3 linked regions of the Homo sapiens genome follow. The protein of the gene in region 2 purifies or fractionates together with the protein of the main gene of each other region. This does not show direct contact. Each region holds a gene or a part of one and is shown on either strand. Other genes may lie near its edges.

What was found.
Region 1: the proteins of RAB7B (region 2) and CHM purify together in Homo sapiens (affinity purification with mass spectrometry; 2 studies listed by BioGRID and IntAct, with this or other methods). This does not show direct contact.
Region 3: the proteins of RAB7B (region 2) and ATE1 purify together in Homo sapiens (affinity purification with mass spectrometry; 2 studies listed by BioGRID and IntAct, with this or other methods). This does not show direct contact.

Annotation. Positions count from the first base shown.
Region 1 is NC_000023.11:85,960,539-85,967,650, forward strand, and holds part of CHM (rab proteins geranylgeranyltransferase component A 1), read right to left. Parts: intron 3,515-7,112; coding exon 3,127-3,514; intron 1-3,126. UniProt on the Homo sapiens protein: Substrate-binding subunit of the Rab geranylgeranyltransferase (GGTase) complex.
Region 2 is NC_000001.11:205,986,345-205,993,456, reverse strand, and holds part of RAB7B (ras-related protein Rab-7b), read left to right. Parts: coding exon 1-37; intron 38-761; coding exon 762-977; intron 978-7,112. UniProt on the Homo sapiens protein: Controls vesicular trafficking from endosomes to the trans-Golgi network (TGN). Acts as a negative regulator of TLR9 signaling and can suppress TLR9-triggered TNFA, IL6, and IFNB production in macrophages by promoting TLR9 lysosomal degradation.
Region 3 is NC_000010.11:121,918,006-121,925,117, reverse strand, and holds part of ATE1 (arginyl-tRNA--protein transferase 1), read left to right. Parts: intron 1-788; coding exon 789-852; intron 853-2,706; coding exon 2,707-2,769; intron 2,770-7,112. UniProt on the Homo sapiens protein: Involved in the post-translational conjugation of arginine to the N-terminal aspartate or glutamate of a protein. This arginylation is required for degradation of the protein via the ubiquitin pathway. Does not arginylate cysteine residues.

The sequences.
Region 1 (7,112 bases), on a different chromosome or scaffold from region 2:
TCAGCCTCCCGAGTAGCTGGCATTACAGGAATGCAATGCCACGCCCAGCTAATTTTTTGTATTTTTAGTAGCACACAGGGTTTCACCATGTTGGTCAGGCTGGTCTCGAACTCCTGACCTTAGGTGATCCGCCCGCTTCAGCCTCCCAAAGTGCTGGGATTACAGGACTGAGCCACCACGCTCAGCCTAAGCCTCTTTTTCACTACCCTCTAAGCGATCTACCACAGTGATGAGGGGCTAAAGAGCAGTGCAATTTGATTACAATAATGGAAATTAGATTTATTAATTAACAATTTTTCCTTAGCATGTTGGTTCCATAATTATTAAGAGTATGGACTTACTTAGAAATGAGCTTTCATTTTAAGAATTTCATCTTTGACCTTCTCTATTAGTCTGAGCAGTATGACACTATACGTATTTTATTTAACTAACCTACCTTGAGCTATTACTTTTTAAAAGGCTATATACATGAATGTGTATTGTCAACTGTAAAGCCCCACAGTATTTAATTATATCATGATGTCTTTGAGGTTGAACGCATATAGAAATGTCAACTAGTTTGGAGATACTGAGTTGGACTTTAGAAAAGAGGTAGGTCTTTGGACGAGCACGGTGGCTCACGCCTGTAATCCCAGTACTTTGGAGGGCCAAGGCAGGCAGGTCACGGGGTCAAGAGATCGAGACCATCCTGGCCAACATGGTGAAACCCCATCTCTACTAAAAATACAAAAATTAGCCAGGCATAGTGGCACGCGCCTGTAGTCCTAGCTACTCAGGGGGCTGAGGCAGGAGAATCACTTGAACCCAGGAGACGGAGGTTGCAGTGAGCAGAGATGGCGCCACTGCACTCCAGCCTGGCAACAGAGCAAGACTCTGTCTCAAAAAAAAAAAAAAAAAAAAAAAAGGAGGTAGGGCTTTAGGGCTTTAAGATAGATATTTGGCAATCATCCTAAACTTAGACGTTTATTAACTGCAATTATTAGAACAGATAAAATTTCTAAGGAGTGACCAATTGCCCCAATAACATGGAATACATTGCTTTCCATCTAGCATGCACTGAATATGTATTAAATGACTTAACATTTTAAAAACGGAAAATTAATCTCCTGTATTACTATGGTTATATGTGATTAAGATACTTCTGGTTTTGAAAATGAGTACATTAAATGTTTATTAGTTATTTTGTAGAACGTATGAACCCATGAAACTCTGCAGGACGCAGTCCCAACTGCCTAGTCCACTGCCTCTAGACATGTTTGGTTTTTACTTACCATAAGAGAACTGGTTATTACTAACCATTCAAACCGATGAAAATACCCAGAAGTCTCCTTCAGGGTATCTTCAAATGTGTCAACTTCTAATTCAATTGTCTTTTTCCTCCCACAACCAGCATTCATTTTCTTATACAACTGAATAATTTTCTACACCAATTCCTACAATTGAAACAGCACCGTCTTCTACCATTTCCCTTTGCAAGATATATACTAAATTTCAGCTAACATAAAAGTTACAGACTTTTATGAAATAGCCTTGATTCTTAACCACATTTATATCATCATTTATTTAGGTAAAACATTCCAAATTCCAAGTAATTACTTCAAAATGGAATTGTCACACAAAGCCCATTTGTTATTTGACTTGTTCAGTTTTTATGTTTTGTTTAACCTATTTCATAGAGTACTGCTCATGGGACCAGGAAGGTTATTAGTGAGCTAGGATTAAACTTCCATCCACAGATGAACAGCCAAGGTAATGTGGAAAAAATGCTAGATTTCAAATCATGACAGGGTCAAAGTAGATGGAGGTGGGAGAGATAGTACGGAAGTATGAAGTAGAACCAATGCAATAGCCAACTATGCAAAATCAGACACAGAGTGCTACATGACAGACAGAAAGAAAAATGGGTAGTAAAAAGATATTTATATTTTCAGGCATCAAGTTCAAAGGGAGCAAGAGTATGAGGATATGGGATTTGCAGAAACAACTTGTCAAGGGAAATGTTTTGGTCCCTCTCTGTCCCCTATCACTTGGAACTTGAAGAAAGTACATTAAATTGAAAAGCCTAGTTCTGTGCTAGTTCTGTGGCAAGTCTTGTGCTATTCACTATCCTCTCCTACTTCTTTTCAATTACTTATTGTTAGCTCTCAACTTATAGGATTTAGTCTGTTTTTCTCTACTTTTACCCTGTCCTGTATCATGACCCTTTAAGGCCATAATCCTTTATCTTACTGATTTTCTATTCTTTTGCACTAAAAATAGTCTTGCTTCCTATAAACCAAATGCAATATTGTACGCTTCTAAGATGGAGGGACCTCCTGTGAAGTTACAGTGAACTAACATTCAAGTTAGTTATGTTCAGGAACATAACCGAAGACAATAGCTTTCTTCCCAGCCTTCCTGCCTCCATCACTATTAAATTTTCCTCTGAAGCTTTCAAACCTGAACACATGATTTTTTTGAGACTTTTTTCTTAAATTATACTTTAAGTTCTGGGATACATGTGCAGAAAGTGCAGATTTGTTACATAGGTATACACACGCCATGGTGTTTTGCTGCACCCATCAACCCGTCATCTACATACCCGTCATCTACATACCCATCATCTACATAAGTATTTCTCCTAATGCTATCCCTTCCCTAACCCCCAACCCCGACAGGCCCTGGTGTGTGATGTTCCCCTCGCTGTGTCCATGTGAACACGATTTTTAAAAATTCATTGGTTTATTCTGAGTATTCATCATCATACAGTTGTGAAAATAGTTACTATACATAAAGGCTAAAAGAATCGATGGAAATTGACTGTAAATAACATGGATTTCTAAACAGGTTCATTAGAATTTTTCTTTTGATAGAATTCATAGTGTCCAGAGAATATTAGGTTGTAGTATGTGCTCAAGCACAAAAGTATTCTTCAGGTATAGATTAAAAACATAATTAAAGCATTTTCATGTGAGCACTTTAAATATGTTTTTAATTTGTACTTAAGGAATATTTTAAATGAATTACAAACATCTGGCTACTATCTCTTTACAAAACAAATGTTCTGCATCTCAGAGAATTACAAAAACTGGGTTTATGGGCCCAGATACTGTTTTCAATGCAAAGATGGGTAAAATTAGTACTTACCTTTGATACTAAATCAATATTAAATCTCCTGCCTTCTTTAATAATTTGTGAGTAAGTAATTCTGTTTTTCTTTGGTTGCTCTGTGGTATCTTCTGCTATAGGCACATTTTCACTCATGTCTTCTGCTGAAGTTGATGGCACACAAGTTTTATCATCACAATGGTTTTCTTTTTCCCCTGTCACTTCAGCACCATTTACTTCTAGCGCATTCTCTGGATCGCTGCTTGGAGTTTGTTCTGTGAGCATTTCACAGCTCATAGTGCTTAATGACTCATCCTCCGTAGGCAGGAAGGCAGAATCTGCAGCTTCTGTGGAGTTTGCAGATGTCACAAGAGCATGATTTTTCTGCAGTGCACCAGCTTCTTCGACATCTTCATGCAAATCCTGACTAATAAGAAATATAATAATAAACACCAGGCTTTATATATATATTCCCTTACCCCTTTTATCAAGTTCAGTGTACGTTTTGCTTATGTGACTCAGACATTAAACATTCATCTGTTAATGTTTCAGTAAAATATGAAACAAAATTAAGATTTGAAAGATATAAAGATTTCATGTCACATGCACATTTTTGAGAATTTAAGACAGACAGGGGAACTGTATTGGAAGCAAATTACCACAGTGATGAAGAACACAGTCTTCAGAATAACAGATCTTGGTTCAAACCCTGACCATATGACTAGTAAGCTCTGCGAACTTAGATACTTATGTATCCTCTCTGAGACCACCTAAATTACCCTCAATTTAGGTAATTACCTAAATTACCCTCTCTGAGACCACCTAAATTACCCATCTATGACACAGAGATAATACCACCTACCACAAGGTTGTTTTGAAGATTAAATTAAGTACTGCATGCAAAGAGCCTGACACAGTGCCTGGGACATAGTAAATACTCAACAGTGGTAGTTATCAAAGATGATTATTACTGAGGAATTCCTGACTTGGTGATACGACAGAAGACCTTCAATAAAGGGAAAAATATCTGCCTTGAAAAGATTAAGTTGGCCTATCACAATGTGGTATCTAATAGGACCTTTCTGTATAATTTCCTGCCTATTTTAGTACTGATGTCTATTACTCTAGTCGAAGCCCCATTTCCAAATTTATTATTGGAGCTAACATTCTCAGTCCACCATTGTCTTGATTTATAGAACAGGCTCCCATTCAGTCTGCCTGCTTTATGAATTTCTGTGATATTTTATCCTCCACAGAACCCACTATTTTCACTGAGTTGCCACACTGCTCAATACCTGGCAGAATGCCTTGTATGTGATTGGTCTTGGCAAGTAAAAATCTGCTAGTTGACTAACAGTAGCCCTAACAGTAGCCCTTCCTTATATCAAATACCCCACAAAAAAATCTTCCTTTTCCTGTCTCTAAACCAAACCACCTTCCTTATTTACTAATCTTCTGGTTTCATCTCCACCTACTTTCCAACATGGCATCTCTAACTCCGAATTTATCAATTCTAATTGTCAAATCATGACAGTTTGGTTCATATCATTTGTTTCTTCTGTCCTTTTCTTCCCACTCTGCATAATATCACAATTCTTCCATTCTCAAACATAATCACATACTTTAGCAAACTACTTTAAGAAAAAGTTTAAATTTAACTTCCAATTAGTCTTCCTTACTCCAATTACACTCATCACTCTATTATACCATGCTCCCATAATACACATATGCAGTTTACCTTGCATGTATTTATCCATTCCTTTTTAATAGTCCTTTAGTTTTCCAGTATATCCTTTATCTTCCAAATCAGACTGTAATTCCTTGAGGGAATACCTTAGCACCGCTCCTTCTGTGCCCCTCACGACACCTACCACACTGCTCCATAGATGTGGTATCCAATAAATGCTTAATTAATAATGGTTTATACGTGCAGACTATTTTTGTTTCAAATGCGAAACAAACTTGTTGCAAAAAACACAAAAAATAAGGCCAAGAAAAAAACACGGTATTGTAAATTAGAAAGTCCGAGTTAAGTGAAAAAAAGAAGTGCCTTATTAAAAATAACACAATGAACACTACAAAAAAAAATGAGGGACAATGATAGAATAACACTCAAATGTCAAGAAATAAAATGCCATATTTACTGTTATAGTAATTCTAATAAAATCTAGTGAAGAAACAAATTGATATCATTAATGTTACATGAATATTTTTGAGATCTAGGAAACCAAAGTGAGGAAAACACCCACTTTGTTCTATCCTAGATTTATCACTTAGGAAACACTTGGCAAGTCATTTAATCTCTCTGATTCACCACATATAAAATGGGGATCAGTCCATTTGCCTTACCTTTTATGAAACTGTTGTGAGATAAGGAAGCTAACATATATGAAAAGTAGTTTATAAACTCTAAAAGGTTAATCAAAGATAAGATACTAATCAGGCCGGGCACGGTGGCTTACACCTGTAATCCCAGCACTGTGGTAGGCCGAGGTGGGTGGATCACTTGAGGTCAAGAGTTCAAGACCAGCCTGACCAACATGGTGAAACCTAGTCTCTACTAAAATGCAAAAATTAGCTGGGCGTGGTGATGGGCACCTGTAATCTCAGCTACTTGGGAGGCTGAGGCCAGAGAATCACTTGAACCCAGGAGGCGGAGGTAGCAGTGAGCCAAGATCGTCCCATTGCACTCCAGCCTGGGCAACAAGAGCAAAACTCCGTCTAAAAAAAAAAAAAAAAAACTACTCAAAAATAAGATATTGTTAAACTGCCCACAGCTCAACAGTCAACTCAAAACCTGTATACCTAGGTTTTCTGCATTCACATGACAAAAGCCCATTGGCCATATAAGCACATAATAGCATCGCTATTAACAGCATTAAGAATGAAGAGTCATAATATGAAAGGTGATTTATATATTTTCTACAGAATTGTTCACACTCTTATTCACTTTTATTATCTTGAAAACCAACAAAACTAAAGTGTGTTACATGAGGGATCTAAGGGGACAATTTTCAGCAAAAGTTCCACACCTAATTTTTTGTTTTTCAGTAAAAGTTCCATGCCTAACTCTTAAAGCAAAAGTTCCATGCCTTTAATTTTAAGAAAGGATAATTAATTACACTTTACAGATAAGACAAAATATGGCAACTTCTCTTATTACAGACTATGATGATGACACTGTGAAAACTGAGCATAGCAAATGATCTAGTCAGTGGTTCTCTATTACATTCTGTGATGGGGGCCCTATAGAGTGAATGAAATACATTAACCAGTACTGGACAACCTGGAAGATATAAGTCAAAATACTTAATTAAAGGTATAAGCGAAGAGAAGAAATTATTCTTCGGAAATTTTTTCTACATCAATAAACTATCGTTTTACTGTTCTCAACATTATAATTTGGTGAGATTCCTAGCACTACGGAAAACACAAGCAATAAAAACACAACACTGTCCTCACTTTCCATTAAAAACAACCACAGTATTTTTGGAGTTCTGCCAAGGTTGAAGTTAATACCTAATGAGAAAATATAAAGACACCCAAAAGCTCCTAAAACTCCACTGACATCCTCAGAAAGCAAAATTCTGTTCATCTAAAAGGGTTATCTTTCCCCAAATTTAAAACTTTATACTGTGGTAAAAGACATTTTCTTAAAAAGATATTCAACCTTTCAGAGAAAACCTCAGAATCCAGTAATAGTTCAATTCTACTAATTTAAAAGTGTTTGAAAACTATAAAAACACATTTACCAATTACAAAACAATGTAGCTGCATTATAAGCCTTCAAATGAACCTTGGAGTTCTAAGATATTACAATGATTTTAACATACACAGGTGCTCCTCGACTTATGATGGGGTTACGTCCTGATAAACCCAATATAGTAAGACAAAGTGCATTTAATACCCCAATAAAACCATTACAAAGTTGAAAAATCATTAAGTCGAACCATCTTAAGCTGCAGACTGTTTATCTAAAGGAAAACAATCTGCATCATTAGTTCTTATAAAAATGTTCACTATCA
Region 2 (7,112 bases):
GATTATCATATTGGGTGACACAACTTTGAAGTTACAGGTGAGCAGCCCTCCTTTTCCCTCTTCAACATACATACACTGAAAATCCCCCCCAAGCCCGGACAGCCACTCATGTAGCAATGTGAACCAGAGCTAGAATGGTCTAGAGCAGAGATGAGCAAACTTCAGCTCATGGGCCAAATCTGATCCACCTCCTATTTTTGTAAATAAGACTTCACTGGGGCACAGCCATAACCATTGGTTAGCTTATCAAGTTATGCAGTACAATGGCAGAGTTGAGTAATAATTGGCATATAGAGACAGAATGACCTGCAAAGCCTAAAATATTTACTATCTGTTATTTATAGAAAAAAAAATGCTGATGCCTGATCTAGAAGGAAGGACATTAATCCAGGAGTTGAGAGACCCCACGCCTAGTCTCAGGTTCTCTGGAAAACCTGGCAGGTGATCTTAGGCAAGACATTCCCGAGGTCCAAGTTTCCATATCTGTCAGATGGGAATAACAATTGCCACCTTGATGACCCAGAGGAAAAATGAGAGCTCAGATGTGAAATTACTCTCAGGATGTTAAATGTTACCACAAAGGTGCTGGAGTGTATGTGGGTGGGAGGGTCAACGTGCCACGGTGTGAAAGAACCATATGCACCTGTACCAGGGCCTGCTGCTCCCTACCCAGCAAAAGAAGCCTTGACATGATGTAATCCAGCTGGGCCTCCTTCCAGCCATTCATCACAGCCCCATGGGGCAACTGCTTTCCCCTCCAGATCTGGGACACGGGCGGTCAGGAGCGGTTCCGCTCCATGGTGTCCACGTTCTACAAGGGCTCCGATGGCTGCATCCTAGCTTTTGATGTCACCGACCTGGAGTCTTTTGAAGCCCTGGATATCTGGCGGGGTGATGTCCTGGCCAAGATTGTCCCCATGGAGCAGTCCTACCCCATGGTGTTGTTGGGGAACAAGATCGATCTGGCAGACCGGAAGGTACTGTTCGTTCATTTATTCATTCAACAAACATTATATGAGCACCCACTATGTGCCAGGCACAGTGTTAGGTCCCACACATACAGAGCTGAATCAGGCATAGTCCTTACTTCAGGAATTTCACAGTCTAGTAGTAGATACAGACATTTTAAAAGGTAATTATAAAATAAAATGGTAATTATGGTACAATACGGTAAATGAAATAATAGAGATATACCTTGGGCATTAAGGAACCACAATAGAGAGGCATCTACCCAAGCCTAGAATATAGGACAGGTTTGCTGGAAGAGCTGGGTTCTGGGCTGAATAAACAGCATGATATAAGCTGAGAACTAAAGGTAATTTTGTCCAGAGACAGGGAAAGGAGGAGTTAAGGCATCAGATGTAGGCAGGAGGGAGGTCACAGTGGAATTTGAATTAATCTGTGGCACAGCATTTCTGCCTGGGGTCAAGTTGGAGGTCTGCAGTTATAAATTCTTGGATATACAAGTTTTCTGGGGAAGTAATAATTTTTGTATTAGCTTAAGCATATTCCGGACCATCGGGTTAACCACTTGACAGTTGGTCTGCTCCATGACTACAGTGACCCCACTTGTGTAGGCGTTTACCATTACACGGCATTGAGAAGACAGCACTTCTAATCCTTGCCTACTAATGAGGAAAGAATACGGTAGACTGAATTTGTAAAAGATGCTCTTGGGCCAAAAGTCCAGATGCCACCAAAAAGAGCTGTTTAAACCAAGTTTCTCTTTTTAGTGTGATGGGGAACTGGATCATCATGTCTGAATTGCATTTTCACAATGGTTCAAATAGAGAAAAGCAATGGAAATGAGGCATCATTTGGCATGATAAAGTGTGTTTATGGAAGGAGAAAGGGAGAGAGGGATGGTGCTTCCAACTGAGCTAACATCTACAGAAGAGAGCCTCTGGTTCATAAAGACACATTTTTGGTTTGGACATGGCGAGTTTGAGGAGCTTGTACAGCTAGTTGGAAATGGCCAGCAGGCTTTGGAATGCGTAAGAATGAAATTTCAAAGGAGAAGTCTGTGCTGGAAATAGAGATCTACGAGTCATCGGTTCTGTGGTCACTTCAGGTTGTAAACTCCATGTCAATTCTCTAATTACAAATATCCAGCCTCAGATAATAAGCAAAGTCCTAAGTTCATTCAAAGGCAAGGTGTCTCCATTTTTTCCCCCACTGGGACCAGCTGTGGGTGAGAACCTTGTGGTCTAAGAGAGGGAATAGGTCCTTAGAATCTCACTGCCAACCTTGAGGTCCACACTTCCTCCTCTTATCTGGGATAGTAATTCTGGTTTCAGACCCTGTCAGGAGTGAAGCAGGAAGAGGGAGAAGAGGTCAGGAGAGCAGAGCAATTCTAATTTGGCTTGTACTATCATAAGACAGTCTTGGCCGGGCACAGTGGCTCACGCCTGTAATCCCAGCACTTTGGGAGGCAGAGGCAGGCGAATCATGAGGTCTGGAGTTCGAGACCAGACTGGCCAACATGGTGAAACCCCGCCTCTACTAAAAATACGTGGTGGTGGGCATCTGTAATCCCAGCTACTCAGGAGGATGAGGCAGGAGAATCGCTTGAACCTGGGAGGCGGAAGTTGCAGTGAGCCGCGATCGCACCACTGCACTCCAGCCTGGGCAACAATGCGAGACTTCATCTCAAAAAAAAAAAAAAGAAAGAAAGAAAAAGACAGTCTTGCACTCTCTGGCCTGAGAGGTGTTGCAAGCCCTTTCTTCTGTGGGTCACTCCTGTGGGTCCTTCGGAAGCCTCCACTGGGAACATTTCGCTGTACCTCCCATGACAAGGGTCTTGCATTCTCCTCCTCAACCCCTGGCTTTCAGCATCCCCACCCCATGGGGGTCACCTTTTCCTCCAAGCAGTCTTTAAGTGGGATTTAGCCAGCCCCAGCCTGTTGCTCTCTCTCTCTCTCTCTGTTGAATCCACATGTCCTTCACAAGGCACACTCATGCATTCTGGCTCCACTGGGGGACAAGGGTAGCTGGTGCCCAGTGCAGCCTCTTCTCTCTCTGCCCCGTTGACTGTTGCCTCAGATACCTCAGGTGTGTGTCAGACACCAGTCCACCATGTCCACCAAACTCCAGGGGTTGTACATTAACGACTCTCCTCAATACCATCTTTTAGCTAGAGATGAGTCCTTAACTGTTCCTCCTCTTGGGAGAGGCAAGGGTAGTTGTGCCCACAACACAACTCTCTCCAAGGAAATCCCTCCTAATCCTCATTTTCAAGCGCTTTATATCCACGCTGTGGGATTTAGAGTCATCCAAGAGAGTCTTGATCATGAGCCTTTGGGAATATGTATCCAGGGTAGACTGTCTCCACCTGCTTTATATCTGACATCTGTCCAGTTGTTGCGCCTCTGCCAAAACTTTCATTTTAACTTCCATCTTGTTTCATGTCTGTAGGGTGTGGGGAGGGAAGCTGGGGGAGTTCAAGACCGAGAGTCAGTGAAATAAGTGGTGCCATCTTCTGTTGAGAGGGAGGAAACCAATACGAGGCTTAAGAAACATGAGGAAGCTTTGCCAGTTACTCTTGGGAGAAGTGGGAGGAGGAGCTACTTGGGGACAAGGACAAGTTCTGATGGGTGACACCAAGGACTCCGCTGAAGGAGGAGACTGGGAGTTTGAGGTGGGGTCTCCGTAGGGTACCAGCCAGGAGCAAGGAACTTGGACTAGGGCTTTTCCAACCAAGAGAAGATGAAGGACAGAGCTGCGAGGGCACCAAGAAACCACGAAGGAAAGAAGAGGGACCAGGGGAGGCAGAAGGGCCAGGGCTGGGGTGGCGGAGGCTGGGGAACAGGGCAGCAGGAGGAAGGGCCTGAGGGGGTTGAGGGAAAGGAGATCGGGGCACAGGAGACCAGGTTTCTTATTTTACAGAGGCCCTGAGAGGAAGAGGCTGACATGGAGAGATTGAGGGCAGCAAAGGATTTCTGAGGCTACCATGAGAGGTGGCGGCTGCGTATAGAGGGGTTAGGAGGCCTCACCAGATGGCAAGTGTTTAGTGAATGAGGGGCACCTGGCAAGGTGAGGAGGGCGGGTGGTGACTCGCGGGAGTAGAGGGGGTCCAATCCAAGCCCCAGGGTGGGTGATCTTTGGTGTCCAGAGAGAGGAAGAACAAAGGTTTGAAAGAGGCAATGAGGCACCAGGCAAGCCAGCCCCCTCTCTGGGATCTGTGGTGAGTAAAGTCTGCAAATAGCCCCAGTGGGGAAGGCAAGAGGGGGCGCTGGGGAAGCGTGACTCTAGGAAAAGCCAGGGTTCAGCCAGACAGGGAGGTCCCTGGAGAGGATGGAGGAGGGGTGAGGAGAGGATGGAGGAGAGGATGGAGGAGAGGGGAGCCTGTCTCTCAACAAGGTAGGCCCAGGGAAGGGGTTTGTAGGGAGGTGGAATAGGATAGGGGAGGGGAGGAGGCACTGAGCGACAGTGAAATCAGGACAGGACGTGGAGAGGATGAGGTGTGTGGGAGAGAGCAGAAGGGCTTTAATTCTGAGACCTGGGATTATAAAGCCCCAAGAGGGGAGGCTGGGAAGTGCCGGCCCTCAAATGTCCTTACTCTGCACAGACCTAGCAAGGGCTCTGCCTGCCCCTGGCCGGGTGTGGACATGGAGAAGGGGAGCCAAGAGGTACGTTCTTGTGAGGCGCCTTCTCCTCGGAGCCCGTCCCGCAGATGTGGACTCACAGCCGCCCACCTGGTCCATGTGCCTCCGCAGCCTGGACCGGTTCCCTCCTCTGCGGGGCGGAGACCAGAACACAGACTTCCTGAGACTGAGTAATAATAGGAAGGATGTGATTTCCATAATGGAAATAATGGAACAAGGAAATGATCCTCCTTATTATTATCTCCAAGGGACAGCTGGGAAAATACAGCAGCTTCTCCTACCTAATAAGAAGAAAATGAGTATATAAAAATGTACTGCAGTTTGGCCCAGTGGCTCACGCCTGTAATCCCAACACCTTGGGAGACCAAAGTCGGGGGATAGCTTGAGCCCAGGAGTTCGAGACCATCCTGGGCAACATGTCAAGACCCCATCTCTACAAAAGAAAAAAATTTTTTTTAATTAGCCAGGTGTGGTGGCACACCTGTAGTCTGAACTACTCGGAAGGCTGAGCTGGGAGGATCGCTTGAACACGGGAGGGAGAGGCTGCAGTGAGCCAAGATCACACCACTGTGCTCCAGCCTGGGCGACAGAGCAAGACACTAAAAGAAAAAAAAAAAAAAAACCCACACACACATACATACATCATATATACACACATATACATACATATATATACACACATATTTATAATATATATTGCTAGTTTAGGAAGGTGAGAAAATTCTGAAGATGAATAGCAAGGAATGTACAATGTGAATACAATATGAATGTACCGAATGCCCATGAACTGTATGCTTAAAAATGGTTACAATGAGCCAGGTACATTTTATCTGTAATCCCAGCACTATGGGAGGCTGAGGTGGGAGAATCACTTGAGGTCAGGAGTTCAAGACCAACCTGGGCAGCATAGTGAGACCCCCATCTCTCCAAAAACAAAACAAAACAAAAATTTTTTTAAAAAGTGTTTAATTTAAAAATGGTAAATTTTATTAGGTATATTTACCACAGTAAAAACAGGCATATATAGCCAGAATAATTTTAAAGAAATTACTGATTTAGTTTAAAAAAAAATCCCTGTTCCTTCTACAGAAGGTAATATTGAAAAAAAATAGTTTATTAGAAAGAATAGCTTTGCTGGCATCTATGCTACAAGGAATTTATTCACTGGGGCATGAATTATTTGCTCTGTGCTCAGGTGGGTAATTTCTGATTTGCCAGTGATTCCGTAGACTTAAGATCATGTTTTCTAAAAATATCCTTTGTTATTCTTAGTGATGGTTTAATGGTTTAGTAATTAACGTTAGTAATACTAATTTTAGCACTTGTATAATTGATTATTTTAAAAGCACATGAGATGGAAAAGCATCATAAATAAAATGATGCCAACTGGACTAATTTTGTCAAATGTTTGGCCTCCAATGAACAAGTAAAATTGCAACCAGAAAAGTGAAATGTCAGTAGTATATTGTTGACCAAAAGCAACATTAATGCAAGTAACACTTTCAGAATTATCATACTTCCCATGTCCCCAACTATCACACCCTGAGCTTATTTTCAGAGTCAGAGCCTAAGTTATAAATAATTTTCATTTTATAAACAAAAGATGAGACAATTTTAAAAATCATGAAACTGTCTCTGGGATTGGAAGAGAAAAGTGAAAAATACTGTCTGGGTAGCTTTCTTCCCAGGCCAGCTTTCTGAGGTTGGGGTGGGGAGGAGGGGGAGATATAAAAAGAATGTTAATTTGCAACATAATCACAATGATATTTCAGAGTCTGTATGCAATCATTCCAAACCAAACAGAGAGCAGGGAAAAATGAGATTAAAAAGTCTGTCATAACCGGGCACTTGGGTAGATCTGGTCATGGTAAGTCAGAGGAAAGGGTCTGCTGAGATCAGCTGGGACTTTTTATCCCAGTAAGACAGACATTCCCAGGACCTGCAGGAGCCACAGAGACAATTAAACAGGGGCAGTGTTTGATTTGCCTCGGCCTGCACTGTGTTCTGGGAGAGGGGTGGAATGGTCCTTTCTCCATGAGAAAGACCTTGGCTCCCCTAAATAAACTGAAATAATGATTATAAAGTACCAGGCTCAGCAAATGCTCAGTATGTGGTCATTTCCCCTTCCCCAAATAATTAGACATCAAACTCAGGGGTACCAATTGTCTTTGGAAGTAACCCAGAGGGCTTCCAGAGCATTTCCAAGCCAACATCACAAATTGAACGCCGTTTGCACTTGGGTGGAGATGTAGTCATTCAGCCTGTGCCTGGTGGCTCATGTGTGCCAGACCAGGAGCTGAGCTCCTGACCCTGAGCTCCCGAAGGGAGACAGAAAAGGAGAGGCATGGTTCTTATGCAGTGCCCTGTAGAGGGCAGCTCAGATGCCAGGGGGAGCACTGAGCTGGGGCTACATCCAAGCTCTGCCTTCTCTCAGCTATGTGATCTGGGGCAAGTTGCTGAACCTCTCTGAACCTCAGTGTTTTTGTCTATAAAGTGGAACTGATAATG
Region 3 (7,112 bases), on a different chromosome or scaffold from region 2:
CTTAGAAGGAATATTGTTACATACTTTTCTCCAATTTTTGATGCTCAAGACTGTACTGTAAATATATACCTGTATATAAATCAGGAGAACTAATAAGCACAAAACATTTTGCTAAGTTTTCTGAAGAGACCAGCATGTTAAATCATTGGGGATATTTATTAAAGTTTGAAGGTCTGATGCAGTCTGATTGCAGTGAGGACTTAAATTTATGCTGTCATAGAGACTATTGACTAATCCTCAAATAAATATAATTAACTTCGATGTGTTTTTTTGAATGAAAATATATATAGTGTCATTCTTTATTTGTGCTGTGTGTATGCCCAACTAACAGCTGTGAAGTATGTACAAACTTTTCATTTATCCAATATGAGTGTTTTGGAATTTTAACCTAAACACTCCTATTTTTTTTTTTTTTTTTGAGATGGAGTCTCACTCTGTCGCCAGGGCTGGAGTGCAGTGGCGTGATCTTGGCTCACTGCAACCTCCGCCTCCCGAGTTCATGTGATTCTCCTGCTGCAGCCTCTTGAGTAGCTGGGATTACAGGCGCCCGCCACTATGCCCAGCTAAATTTTTGTATTTTTAGTAGAGATGGGGTTTCACCATGTTGGCCAGGCTGGTCTTGAACTCCTGACCTTGTGATTTGCCCGCCTTGGCCTCCCAGAGTGCTGGGATTACAGGCATGAGCCACCGTGCCCGGACACACACTCCTATTTTTAAACCTCACACTTTGAATTTAAAAAAGAAAAAAGGTTACCCTGCCGTAATTAACACACTACTTATTTTTTCAGGCATGTGGGCACATTCCATGACAGTACAGGATTATCAGGATCTCATAGACCGAGGATGGCGAAGGTAAAGCTTCCAGATACAAAGAGACTTCCTACTGTTACTCAGGTTCTTGAAAAATACAGCATGCCTTTGAAATGCTTTCCTGTTGGAAAGAGGTTTAAGAAAAATTTTTATTATATTCTTTTATGTAGTGATTTTTTGTCTCCTTTTTAAAAAACTTTGTTAGGAAAATGTCAAATATCTATAAAAGCAGAGAGTACATTAGAATGAACCTCAAGTACCTATCACTAAGCTTCAGCAGTTATTAACGTTCTGCCAATCATGTTTGATTCTCCTGCTCCACCTTTTAATATTTAACAGCAAATTACATCAGTAGGTTATTATGACATTTATCCTATCAATAGATAGGCAATAAGTATGTATCTCTAAGAGAGAGGTCTTTTTTTCTTTTTAACTTATCCACAATGCTGTATCACACCTTACAAAATTAATAAAAATTCTTTGATGTTACCTGTTACCTACTTTTTATTAGATTTTCCAGATTGTCTCAAAAATGTCTTCTTTAACAGTTTATTTGGATAAGGATTTCCTTAAAGTCCACACATGGCCTGTTTTGAGTAGTTATTTTTATGTGGATGATTTTTAAGTAACTCTTAGGTAAAGTTCCTTGTGTAAATATAAGTAATATTAAATACTGTACGCTAATACTTGCCAAAGACGTGGGATTGGGAGCACCAGCTGAAATATCACAACTTTCCTTAAACTTAATGAGATTCAAAAGGTAGACATAGGTCAGATTTTAAAGGACTTCACATGCCATGATAAGGAACTTTTTTTTTTAGAGACATGGTCTCGCTCTGTTGCCCAGGCTAGAGTCGCTCTCTTGCCCAGGCTAGAGTACAGTGCCATCATCATAGCTCACTGTAACCCCAAATTCCCACACTCAAGTGATCCTCTTGCCTCAGCCTCTGCAGTGGCTAGGACTACAGGTGTGCATCACAACACCTGGCTAATTTTTCAGTTTTTTGTAAGATCTTGGCTATGTTGCCCGTGCTGGTCTCGAACATCTGGTTGCAAGTGTTCTTCCAGCTTAGCTTTTCAAAGTGTTGGGATTATAGGTATGAACCACCATGCCTGGCCAGAACTTTTTAGAAGGCAGTCATGGAAGGATTTTATGGTAAGAGAGAAATGTGAAGGAATTTGTTTTAGAAAAGATTGTTCAGATGGCTGAGAGGTATTTGAGGGGGGGTCATAGAGGCAGGAAGATGAGTTCAAAGGTTATTGCGCTATCCAGATGTGCGATGATGAGGACTGTCACCTTAGTGGCAATGGTGATAGAGAAGAGGGGACAATTTAGGATAGGGTTTAAAATGAAGGAAAGCTTGCTAATAGGATATAGAGGTGAATTCCAGGGAGGAGTTTAAAATGACTCCCAGGTCTCTGACTTGAGAACAGAATGAACAGTTCTGTTAGTACCATAGACCTGGAATGCATGGAAAGAAGCGGGTTAGTTTTGGGGTACTCCGTGCTGGTGCATGTGGAATACCCAAGTGTGGTTGTCACAGGCATCACATACATGAGTCCCACAGCATCGTGGGCATTTCTCTCATTGCCCTTGTGGTATTGGGGATTGGTGGCAGGTGAAGGCAGAGCAGGGGTGGCAGATGCTGGTGAGAGGGGAACTGAGATGATTGGCCGTGGGGTACACAAGTAAAGCTTTAGGAAATAAAAGGCAGGGTTCTAAACTTTGCTACACGCACTTTGAAGATTATTTGGCTTATGAAGAGTAATTAAACCTACATGCATTTCTACAATGTTGATTAGATTTTTAACCTTAATTTAATGCTCCTGTGCTAGGCTGTTTTGGTGCAAGTGAAAAATATATAAGACATTAACAAACTATTTTTATAATTTTAGAAGTGGAAAATATGTGTACAAACCTGTCATGAATCAAACATGTTGTCCTCAGTACACAATAAGGTAAGAATTTTAATTAGTAGAAAGAGGATTTATAGTATGAAGATTGTGTATAATATTTTAGTAGTCTCTTGTGCTTTTTTAATGTTTATTTCCGCTCTAGGTAGATGTCCTTTAAAAGGAAAAGTAAATGAGTTATGTCTTTTCTTCATACTGATGCTGTATTTATGTGCTGATCAGTAGGTTTTAGTAATATTGTTTGATTGGTTCAGATATAAATATGTGAAAAAAATACCCTCTTAATTTAGCAATCTTGTCAATGAATGCCATGAAATATTGGGAAAATGTTGGTAAATATTCACATTACTTTTGGATATTAAATATTATAGGACTTAGCTTAGAATTTTCTGCATTCTGGTGTATTGCTTGACACAGTGCTTGTGTTCAAGCAATGCTACAGGCTCCTATAAATTACTTGGTAGGTTCACGTTCTCATGTTGTGGGATTCAGGAGGACAAGAGAGACCTCGGGTTAAAACAGGAGAAACTTTATTGAGTGCACTTAGGCCCAGCTGACTCAACGTCTAAAAGACTGGGCCCGGAACAAAGACTTTTATACACAGTTCACAGAAGGGGGTGGGCTAGCTTGAAGCAAGCTTACAGTGGCGTGAAAGCAGGGATACAGAGGCAGGACAAACTCAGGATTGCACATGACCGTTGCCAAGCAACCCAGATGTCCGTTATCTAGGTTTGCCTGGGCTTATCCCATAATCTTCACTATGGTGCCCAGGCAGCTGCAGTTCAGGCCTACTCAGGCTTCTCATGACATTCATTGTACTTCTCAGATAAAACAATACTTGAAGTCACTAGTTACAGAGAACAGGAATCTATGAACTCATTCCGTAAAACAAAGGAAAATTTATTTTTTCTTCTCTGCATGTTGAGTGCTGGGAGAATCTCCAGAGCACACTAGATAATATTATCAAGGCTTTTCCTGGGTCTGGGCCGTGCCTGTTGCTGCCTCTGGGACAAGTCGGCCTAATACAGGAAAGCTTATTTATCTTTCTTTTTAATTTTATTTTTCTTTAATTTCCCACCTCACTCACTTATAAGTGGGAGCTAAACCTTGGGTACTCAGACATAAAGATGGCAAAAGTAGAAGCTGGAGACTACTAGAGGAGGAGGGAGGGCGTGAGCTAAGGGTTGAAAAACCAACTTGGTATGACGATCAGTACCTGGGTGGTGGGATCATCCATATTGCAAACCTCAGCATCATGCAATATATCCAGGTCACCAGCCTGTACCTATACCCCCTGAATCTAAAATAAAAGTTGAAAAAAAAATTAATTGGAAGGAAGAGGGCTTAAATTTAATCTGCCACTTACACTTAGAGTCCAGTTTTTTTTTTTTTTTTTTAAAGAGACGGAGTCTCGCACTGTCGCCTGGGCTGGAGTGCAATGGCGCGATCTCGGCTCACTGCAACCTCTGCCTCCTGGGTTCAAGTGATTCTCCTGCCTCAGCCTCCCGAGTAGCTGGGATTACAGGTGCCTGCCACCACGCCCGGCTAATTTTTTGTATTTTTAGTAGAGATGGGGTTTCACTATGTTGGCCAGGCTGGTCTTGAACTCCTGACCTCATGATCCACCTGCCTCAGCCTCCCAAAGTGCTGATATTACAGGCGTGAGCCACTGCACCTGGCCCAGAGTCCAGTTTTCTTAAATGGGAAACTTAAACCAAAGTCTATTTTCCTACAAAGTCTTCGTTGGATTTTTTCATAATCTTTTGGATTTTCCATGTACCTTCTCACCTCACCCTAACATAGAAAAATCTTCTCTCTTATTCTGGTTATAAGGTCATCATCATCTTTTTCTTCTTTTTTCTTTTTTTTTTTGAGACAGGGTCTTGCTCAGGCTGGAATGCAGTAGCACAACCATGGCTCACTGCAGCCTGCCTGCCAGGCTCAAGTAATCCTCCCACCTCAGCCTCCCAAGTAGCTGGGACTGTAGGTACACACCACCAGGCCTGGCAAATTACATTTTTTTTTATAGAAAAGGGGTCTTGCCATGTTTCCTAGGCAGATCTCACCATGTTTCCTAGGCTGATCTCGCCATGTTTCCTAGGCTGATCTCCAACTTCTAGGCTCAAAGGAGCCTCCTGCCTCAGCCTCCCAAAGTGCTGGGATTATAGGTGTGAGCTACTACTGCACCTGAACCTTTTTTTTTGATAGAAAATGTGAAAAGTGCGTTAACATTTTGAAGCATGTATTTGCCCCCAATTTCAATGTGTATATATACTCATAAAATTAAAAGACAGTTTTACTTTAAGAAATGAAAAATTAAAAAATTAAACAGTTTTTTGTCCATTAGTTTTTTTGTTTGGTCCTCAAAGCTGTCTCCCTTGGTTGCTCTTAACTTGTTTTTGGGTTGCAAACCATTTTGAGAAGTCGATGAGAGCTGGCCTCCTGCCCAAAGGGATGTAGACAAAAATATGTAACATTTTGCATATCCTCCCCACCGAGACTGAGTCTTGCTGTGTCACCCAGGCTGGAGTGCAGTGGTGTGATCTCAGCTCACTGCAGTGTCCGCCTCCTGGGTTCTAGCAGTGCTCTTGCCTTAGCCACCTGAGTATCCGGGACTACAGATGCCCACCGCTAGGCCTGGTTAATTTTTGTGTTTTTAGTAGAGACGGGGTTTCACCATGTTGGCCGCGCTACTCTCGAACTCGTGATCTACCCACCTCAAAGTGCTGGGATTTCAGGCGTGAGCCACCATGCCCAGCACATTTTGCGTGTTAATTTTAGAATGATCGCAGACTCCCAAAGGTTCACTGATACTTGATTAGGAGCTTTTTTTTTGAGATGGAGTCTTGCTGTCGCCCAGGCTGGAGTGCAGTGGTGCTATCTCGGCTCACTGCAACCTCTGCCTCCCGTGTTCAAGCGATTCTCCTGCCTCAGCCTCCCGACTAGCTGGGATTACAGGCGTGCACCACCACACCTGGCTAATTTTTTTGATATTTTTAGTAGAGATGGGTTTCACCATGTTGGCCAAGCTGGTCTCGAACTCCTGACCTCAGGTGATCTGCCCGCTTCAGCCCCCCAAAGTGCTGGTGTATCTGGAGTTGGTTCCTTCTGGTGGGTTCTTGGTCTCGCTCACTTCAAGAATGAAGCCGCAGACCTTCGCAGTGAGTGTTACAGCTCTTAAATGTGACGCAGACCCAAAGAATGAGCAGCAGCAAGATTTATTGTGAAGTGTGAAAGAACAAACCTTCCACAGTGTGGAAGGGGACCCTAGTGGGTTGCCACTGCTGGGTAGGGTGGCCAGCTTTTATTCCCTTATTTGTCCCTGCCCATGTCCTGCTGATTGGTCCATTTTACAGAGTGCTGATTGGTCCATTTTATAGAGTGCTGATTGGTCCATTTTATAGAGTGCTGATTGGTCCATTTTACAAACCTCTAGCCACAGAGCACTGATTGGTGCGTTTTACAATCCTCTAGCTAGCTACAGAGCGCCGATTGGGGCGTTTTACAATCCTAGCTACAGAGAGCTGATTGGTGCATTTTACAATCCTCTTGTAAGAAAAGTTCTTCACGTCCCCCCCACCCCCGCCCCGACCCAGAAGTCCAGCTGGCCGTTGGATTGGCAGAGGATGAGAAAAATGGGGTCTGGTTTGCTGACACTGTGTCATTACACAAAGAATAGAATGACAGAGTATCCTGTGCTGTCCTCTTTCAGTTTTCGTGGTTATAAAGAGAAGGTATCTTCTAAGGCAGAAGTCATTTGTCTTCAATTAGCAATTTATTGGATTATGGACAGGATTCTATTCATAAGTTTGAAGTTGATTGGCTTAATCTGTGATCAGAAAAGGGTGATTTCGATTGGTTAAAGAAAAAAGAATCTAAATTGTATTTGGTGCCTGTTACATGGAAAGCACTATTCTAAGCATATTGCCTTTATAAAAGGGGATTCATTAACATTGCAAAATAAAGTAGTTATGTGATTTTTGCATTTTACGTGGCATCAAATGTTTCCTGAATTGCGTCTCTTTGTAATTCATTATACATCATCTTTTTTTTTTTTTTTTGAGACAGAATCTTGTTTAGTCTCCCAGGCTGGAGTGCAGTGGCGCGATCTCTGCTCACTGAAACCTCCGCCTCCCAGGTTCAAGTGATTCTTCTGCCTCAGCCTCCTGAGTAGCTGGGACTACAGGCGCATGCCACCATGCCCTGCTAATTTTTGTATTTTTAGTAGAGACGGGGTTTCACCATATTGGCCAGGTTGGTCTGGAACTCCTGACCTCATGATCCGCCTGCCTTGGCCTCCCAAAGTGCTGGGATTACAGGCGTTGAGCCACTGGGCCCAGCCACATCATCTTTTTATGGAGTCATTTTCCATATTTACTCTTCTGGTT